Homo sapiens: one gene and its partner. The protein of the gene in region 1 purifies or fractionates together with the protein of each later gene. This does not show direct contact. Each region holds a gene or a part of one and is shown in the gene's direction. Other genes may lie near its edges.

Evidence for each region. Proteins that work in one complex are often made in the same cells at the same time.
Region 2: the proteins of XPR1 (region 1) and AGRN purify together in Homo sapiens (affinity purification with mass spectrometry; one large-scale study listed by BioGRID and IntAct). This does not show direct contact.

The regions. Positions count from the first base shown.
Region 1 is NC_000001.11:180,635,022-180,638,521, forward strand, and holds part of XPR1 (solute carrier family 53 member 1), read left to right. Parts: intron 1-3,500. UniProt on the Homo sapiens protein: Inorganic ion transporter that mediates phosphate ion export across plasma membrane.
Region 2 is NC_000001.11:1,018,681-1,022,919, forward strand, and holds the start of AGRN (agrin isoform 2 precursor), read left to right. Parts: upstream 1-1,439; 5' UTR 1,440-1,492; coding exon 1,493-1,693; intron 1,694-3,520; coding exon 3,521-3,782; intron 3,783-4,239. UniProt on the Homo sapiens protein: Isoform 1, isoform 4 and isoform 5: neuron-specific (z+) isoforms that contain C-terminal insertions of 8-19 AA are potent activators of AChR clustering.

The DNA.
Region 1 (3,500 bases):
TTTTATTCCTTGAACTGATAAAATTATTAATGATAATAACCCATCAATATCCTGAAAATTATTATGTTTTTTAATTTAAAAATAAGTTGTGGTGTTCATAGATTCAGTCTTCATAGGCAGAATAATAAAGCATAAAATAACAGACCAACATGGAGAAGCCATATAAAGAAAATCTCTTCAATCCATTTGTAAGTAGTTTGTGCAAAGAATAAACACAAACAAGCCGAGACTATTCCTGTTTCCAGTAATCTGTTTGAGTATAAATTTTGACATGTAAAATAGAACACCGGTAAATCTTTGTAAGAGCTTTTTTAAAATTTAGAATTAGTGACTATATATTTTAAAGCTCTGCAATTGATTAATCAAAATTAACTGAGACTGGTTTCAACCAAATAGACTAATATGACCATGTTAATATTTTGCAGAATATTAGCAGAAGAAGCAAATATATTTGGTGCCTTAGGCTGCTGACTTTCCCTAGGGCCTTGTGTTTCTTTGGTTTCTCAGGACCCAGGAATGATTTTTTTCAGTGTATCCTTTGTTTTGTAATAAAATAACAAGGTTTCTAAATTACAGGATTTTAGAGCTAAAAGGGAATTTAAAGATTATCTACCTTGTTTTTCCAGGCAAGGAAACTAAGGTCCAGAGGGGTTAAGCCACTTGTTTAGGAATATGTGTATATGTCTCTTGAGCATGTGTAAGCATTGAGAGTCCGGTCACACTGTGTGATCCTGATGAAACCATTTCTTCTTTTAGCTAAGAAACATCTGAGTTTCTTTAATGTTAGAGAATTGGACTTGATTTCTAAGCTCACAACCCCCGTATTATTTAAGGACTCATCCAGCTCTAAAATTCTGTGTTTTTAAATGGTTTTATTATGTTTGGTATATGAAGAGGACAGAACTTAACAGGAGTATTAATAGCATCCTTTAAAATTAATAATATCCTTTCAAAAATTTTTGATATTTTGATCTGTGAATAAGATGTTAACCCAGTGAAACTCTCTTATTTAACTTAAAAAGGGATGACGATGAATTAATTTTTTATTGCAGGATTTTGGAAAGGAGAGGTTCTGCATGAACTACACTTCCATTATATTCAGGTATAAGGAGACATTACCATAACATTATTAACGATTTTCATTTATAGAACTCTCCCATGGGAACACTTGTGTTACAGGCTTCAGTTTCCCAAAGGTATTATGTTGATTAGGTAGGTTTAACTTGAGTTGCTGCAACTTGTTTGAAATATCCAGTTTGGCCACCCGATGGGGCACAAACCACACTTTTTCTTTCAGACACTTTTGTAAATCAAAGTATAGTATAGTGTGTTTAAGATAACACTTGTAAATGATTGCGTCAATGAGATGGTTGGCATTTACAAATGTTTCTTAAGTGAGTGAATGAATGTTGTAAAGACAGGAAGCTATAACTATTCTTTATCATCTTTAAGTGTGTCAGCGTGAGTATGCTGGAAAGATTATACTTGTCCGTTTATCCTGAAGGTTGGTTTTGGATCAGCTTTTGGGTGAAGGCCCAGATCATAAGAACCTAAGAATCTTATTTGACCTGGGGTGACCATGGAAACTTAGTCCTAGCTTCAAATTCAGTCCTAATCTGGGAAGCATTTAAGAGAATGATTGAGTTGTGCTGGGTAAGGATTTCAGGTATATTTGAGTTGTAGGCCCCAAAGGAGTGTGCCCAAAACTCCCATGGAGTAAAGAGAAGACAGTATTAGAAAAGTAAGGGGGCTGGACACGGTGGCTCACGCCTGTAATCCCAGCACTTTGGGAGGCCGAGGCAGGCGGATCACTTGAGGTCAAGAGATTGAGACCATTCTGGCCAACATGGTGAAACCCCATCTCTACTAAAAATACAAAAATTAGCTGAGTGTGGTGGTGCATGCCTGTAGTCCCACCTACGCGGGAGACTGAGGCAGGAGAATCGATTGAACCGGGGAGGCGGAGGTTGCAGTGAGCTGAGATTGTGCCACTGCACTCCAGCCTGGCAACAGAGTAAGACTTCATCTCAAAAAAAAAAAAAAAAAAAAAGGAAAAGTAAGGGAAGACAGAACTGTTAATTTTACTTATTTTTATGCATAAGAAAAGGAAGAAATACAATTTTACTAGTATTTAATAAATGGATTGATGCAGTACCCCTGCTAAGGAGGTCATGCACAGGTATACTGAAGAAAACAGAAGGATTGCCAGTGGCTTTTTCACTTGTTTGTTCGCTTTGGCAGATAATCATTAATCCAGTTATGGGTGCATAATTAAATGAATCTATAAATTATTATCTAGTTTTAGCCAAATCAACCGCTAGGAAATAGACATGTCTTAAAAAGACTCCTGTAAAGATTCCATAACAGTAATACCAATAATGCAAGCACAAGTGAACAACAAGAAAATGACAACAGAGCTGAGGTTTCTCCTTCTAGTACTAGCTTTTTGGCAGCCAAATTACAGATAAAAACAATAACACTTTAGTAGACTTGACAAGAAGTTCGCCAAAAATTTAAAAATTATTAAGCTAATTCTTTTTTCTTTTTCCTGAGACGGAGTCTTGCTCTGTCACCCAGGCTGGAGTGCAGTGGCCTGATCTCAGCTCACTACAACCTCCGTCTCCCAGGTTCAAGCCATTCTTGTGCCTCAGCTTCCCAAGTAGCTGGCATTACAGGCGCGCGCAACTACATCCAGCTAATTTTTGTATTTTTAGTAGAGACAGGGCTTCACCATGTTGGCCAGGCTGGTCTCGAACTACTGTTCTCACGTGATCCGCCTGCCTCAGCCTCCCAAAGTGCTGGGATTACAGGCATGAGCCACCACTCCTGGCCTAAGCTAACTCTTTGAAGTAAGGTTTTACATCTACTGTCAGTCACAATGAACTTGACTGTAAGTGTATATATTATGAGTATTCTGCCTTTGTAAGGTCTGTTTTTTCAGTTTATAGCCATTAATTAAGTTTCAAAATCAAATGAATCCTGAACTTTGAACTGGACCTTTGAAACACTGTATCATAAAATGTTAAATGAAGGTTTTATTTATTTAAAAAACTTTTTTGTTTTTTTAATGAAGATTAAAAAAATGAAACTTTTCAGTTATGTTCTCTCAAAGCATTGTTATTGATAATTTCTTAGATCAAAAATATTTTTGTACTGTTCATAAATGAAAGGTAGAAATTATTTCATCCTTGTGTCATCTTTTTAAAACTTCTATTTTAAACAATTTTGTTTTACATTGTACACAGATACAGATGGGTATAATTAATAAATAAATATGCATATATTGGAGATACATAATAAAACTTTTTTTAAATAGGGATTTGACATAATAAAAGTTTGGAAGACTTTGCCCAACTTGTACAGATTAACCACAGCTGGTTTGTGGGTTGCCTGGTATTGAGGTGGCCTTTGGGAATGAGAGAGTGTCAGACTTCACCAGGGTTCTTGCCCAGTGTATTTGCCTTTTCAGGTCTTTCCTTATCTAGTAAATGCTAAAAGAA
Region 2 (4,239 bases), about 180 Mb from region 1:
GCTCATGCCTCTCCCTCCACACCTCCCTGCAAGCTGAGGGAGCCGGCTCCCGCCTTGGCCAGCCCAGAAAGGGGCTCCCACAGTGCAGCGGTGGGCTGAAGGGCTCCTCAAGTGCCACCAAAGTGGGAGCCCAGGCAGAGGAGGCGTGAAGACCGAGAGAGGGCTGTGAGGACTGCCAGCACGCTGTCACCTCTCAGCACCATCTCAGCTCACTGCAACCTCCGCCTCCTGGGTTCAAGCGATTCTCCTGCCTCAGCCTCCCAAGTAGCTAGGACTACAGGCGCCTGCCACCACACCGGCCAATTTTTGTATTTTTAGTAGAGACGGGGTTTCACCATGTTGGCCAGGCTGGTCTCGAACTCCTGACCTCCCGTGATCCACCTGCCTCAGCCTCCCAAAGTGCTGGGATTACAGGCGTGAGCCACTGCGCCCGGCCCATCCAGCTAATTTTTAATTTTTTTGAGAGATGGGGTCTTGCTATTTTGCCCAGGCTAGTCTCGAACACCCGGTGTCAAGAGATCTTGCTGCCTCCGCCTCCCAGAGTGCTGGGATGACAGGCGTGAGTCACCACGCCCAGCCTAGACACAGTTCTGAAGGGACAAAGGGGGCCTCCGCTCCCTCCTTTCAATCTTCAGCTAGGCCAGGCTCCCACTTGGGTCCTCCAGCCCTCAGTTTCCCCCTGCACCCAGCCAGGCCAAGCTGCAGAGGCGCCCGGCCCAGAGCTGGGAAGGGGCGTGGCGGGACCCGCGCTTGCAGCCGCGGGACGGAAGGGGGCGCGAACCTCCCCGCGGCGGGGCCTGGGGGGGCGGGGCCGGGAGGGGCGGGGCCGCGCCCCGTGCTGGCCAATCAGCGCCCGCCCCGGCACCGGGACCCGCCTCCGCGCCGCAGCTCCCGGGGGGTCCGGCCCGGCCGAGCCTCGGTGTCCGGCCCCGCGGGGGAGGGGCGCGGCCTGCGGAGCGGGATCGGGGCCGGGTCTGGGGCCCCTCCCGGCGGCCTTCGAGCCCTGCCGCCCGGCTCCGCGCCGCCCGGAGCCCCTCGGCAGTCCCGTCACGTCTCCTCCAGATTAGGCATTAACTCGGGTGCAGCCGCACTTCCGGGGGGCCGCGGCGGGGGAGGGGCGCCTGCGGGATCCAGACCCGCCCCCCACTCTCCTCTCCCCGCCCCCTCCCGGGCCGCCCCTTTCCCGCCCCACGGCCGCGCCGGGCGCTGCGTCCCGGGGCTTTGTTCGCGGCGGCGCGGGTCGCCGGCCTCCGGGCGGGCCGGGGGAGGGAGGAGGGAGGGGGCGGGAGGGGGAAGGAAGGAGGAGGGGGAGGAGGAGGGCGCGGGGAGGGGGTAGGGGGGCGGGGAGGAGAGAGGGGGAGGGGCGCCGCCCTGGCCCCGCCCCCCCCCGCCCGCCCGCCCGCGCTCCGCCGCCTCCGGAGCTGCGTCCCGTCCTGTCCAGTCCCGTCCCCGGCGCGGCCCGCGCGCTCCTCCGCCGCCTCTCGCCTGCGCCATGGCCGGCCGGTCCCACCCGGGCCCGCTGCGGCCGCTGCTGCCGCTCCTTGTGGTGGCCGCGTGCGTCCTGCCCGGAGCCGGCGGGACATGCCCGGAGCGCGCGCTGGAGCGGCGCGAGGAGGAGGCGAACGTGGTGCTCACCGGGACGGTGGAGGAGATCCTCAACGTGGACCCGGTGCAGCACACGTACTCCTGCAAGGTGCGCCCACCCGGACCCCGGCCTCCCCTCGCGACGCCTGCCGCCCCGCCGGGACCCCCGCCCCAGGCCGTGGGAACCAGCCCCGGTCGCTCCGCAGCCCCCGCTCCGGCTCCCTTGGCGACCGCCAAGCCCCGGGAGGGGGGGTCGCCGGGTCCCGGGAAACTCGCGGGCGCCGGGGAAAGTTGCTGCGCCGCCGCCGTCCTCCGCCCGCCGCCGCCTCCCTCCTCGCGGAGACAAGTGCACCTCGCCCACGGACTGCGGCTGCCGCGCGCCCTCCCTACCGGCCGAGAAGGAGAGGGGCCTGGGGAGGGGGGGCCTTTGCCCGGGCGGGGAGCGGGGGCTGGGCCTGGGATCCGCTTGTTCCCCTCCCCAGAGGCCTTTCCCGGGGCGAGAGGGGTTGGTCAGGAGAGAAAAAGGGGCGCACAGCCTGAGCTCCCAACCCCGGGAGCCAGGTGGGGGGTGCCGCAGTGGTGCGGGGGGGGGGCGTGCAGGAGCAGAGAGGTGGGCGGGGCCGTCACCGGGCCTCGTGTGCTTGGGGGCAGGGCCGGTGCCCCATCGCGCTCCTGCGGGAACCGGGGCTCCCCACCCCGGGGAGGGGAAGTTTCCCTGGTTTCTCCTTCAGGTGCTTCTGGGAGCCCCCGGGGTAGGTACGCTGGGACCCCCACCATCTTCTCCTAGTAGGGGCTCGGGGGACCCAGAGCCGGCGCCCGTGTACCCCCAAAACCATCTCCTGGGACCAGAAATCCACTCATTTCCCTCCACGGAGGTGGAGAAGGTGGCAGCTTCTTTCAGACTGGCCGGTGCGGGCTACAGCTGGGCTCCCCCGCCGGCCCAGTCTCCTCCACAGCGGCCAGGGCACTTTGCCAGGCCCCTGCAGGATTTTCCCGACTTCCTCCCCGCTGCTCCTGGGTGTGGCTGGGGTGGGGGAAGGCGATGAAAGCCACCAGGCCCTCCCCCTGCCTGGGTCATCTGCCTCCTGGAGCCTACTGTTGGGGGGCGTGGAAGAGGCTCTGCCTGCGCAACTGGAGGGGGTCCCTGCGGATGCCGCAGTCCTGAGGCTCCCAGCAGGGGCTGCGCAGTGGACAGGCCAACCATTGTCTCTCCCCCCATCCGGCAGCCCCAGCCCCCCAGATCTGAGGAAGGGGCTGCTTCTCCCGGCTTTGTTCTCAGGGGAGTGCGTGAGTGCGTGGGTCCCTGTCCCCGTGAGGGCCGCCAGGTCGGCTGTAGCCTTTACCACAGGCCACCGTCAGAGCAGCTGCCCTCAGGGCCCCAGGAGCTGAGAAGGTGGAGGGTGGGGCACCCTGCACTGCCCAAACTTGATTTCGTGGTTCACAGGCTGCCCTGAGTGCACAGACTGTAGAAGCCCGAGGAAGGGGCGTCTCAGCCCAGCCACAGGGCCAAGCTGGCCCCTTACCCCAACGCCCCATCCCCCTCCTCCACTGCCCAAGCTTGCTGGGAGGTGGGCCCTGAGCACTGGGCAGGTGGGGAGAAGTGTGGAAGGCAGGCACCCCAAGCCAGGTGGGCCCCCTTCCCAAATTCGGCCTTAGCTGATAGGGACGTTATTGGAGCTGGGGTGGCTGAAGTTGGTTAGACCTGGGGGAGGGGATGTGTTCACAGGTGACGCATCTCTGAGCGTTCCCGCATGGGCTGTGGTGGCCAGTGTGGGCTTCCCCCAGCTTCCGCCCAGCGGGCTGACTCAGAGGTCTCCCCACATCTCTGCCCAGGGCTTGAGTCTACTGTGGACATTTGCCCTAAACACCTAAAGCCCCCAGTCTAGCCCCTTCCCCAGGAGAGGACTAATGACACCTACCGCCATGTCCACCCCAGGTTCGGGTCTGGCGGTACTTGAAGGGCAAAGACCTGGTGGCCCGGGAGAGCCTGCTGGACGGCGGCAACAAGGTGGTGATCAGCGGCTTTGGAGACCCCCTCATCTGTGACAACCAGGTGTCCACTGGGGACACCAGGATCTTCTTTGTGAACCCTGCACCCCCATACCTGTGGCCAGCCCACAAGAACGAGCTGATGCTCAACTCCAGCCTCATGCGGATCACCCTGCGGAACCTGGAGGAGGTGGAGTTCTGTGTGGAAGGTGCGTGGTGGGGGGCTCGTGTGGGGGCCTGTGGGGGTCAGGGCAGTGGCCAAGGGGGACAGGTTGCAGGGGTCGCTGTGCGGGGTCCTTTCGTGCTGTGCCGGAGGCTGCAGCACACGGTGTCTTGTGGTCCAACCTCATTCTCTGCTTCTCCGTCCCTGGCTCCCCAGCTGCATCTCCAAGCCCTCACATTAGACATCTTTGGCCCTGGGGCCCAAGGCAAGTCCCAGCCCTGCAAACAGATGGCCTCCTGCCTCCTCCCCTCCTCCCAGCTCTCCATACTTCCTTCTGGAGGCCCCTTCTAGGGAGAAGCTGGACAGGTGAATGTCCCCAGCTGTTCAAGCCCCTGTGTTAGCCCAGACCTCCGTCTAGACGGGCCCGCGTGTCGAGCACTCCTCGCCGTGGAGATCGGGCGGGAGGGCGAGGCTGTGCGGCGAGGGCTTCTGCGGATGTGGAG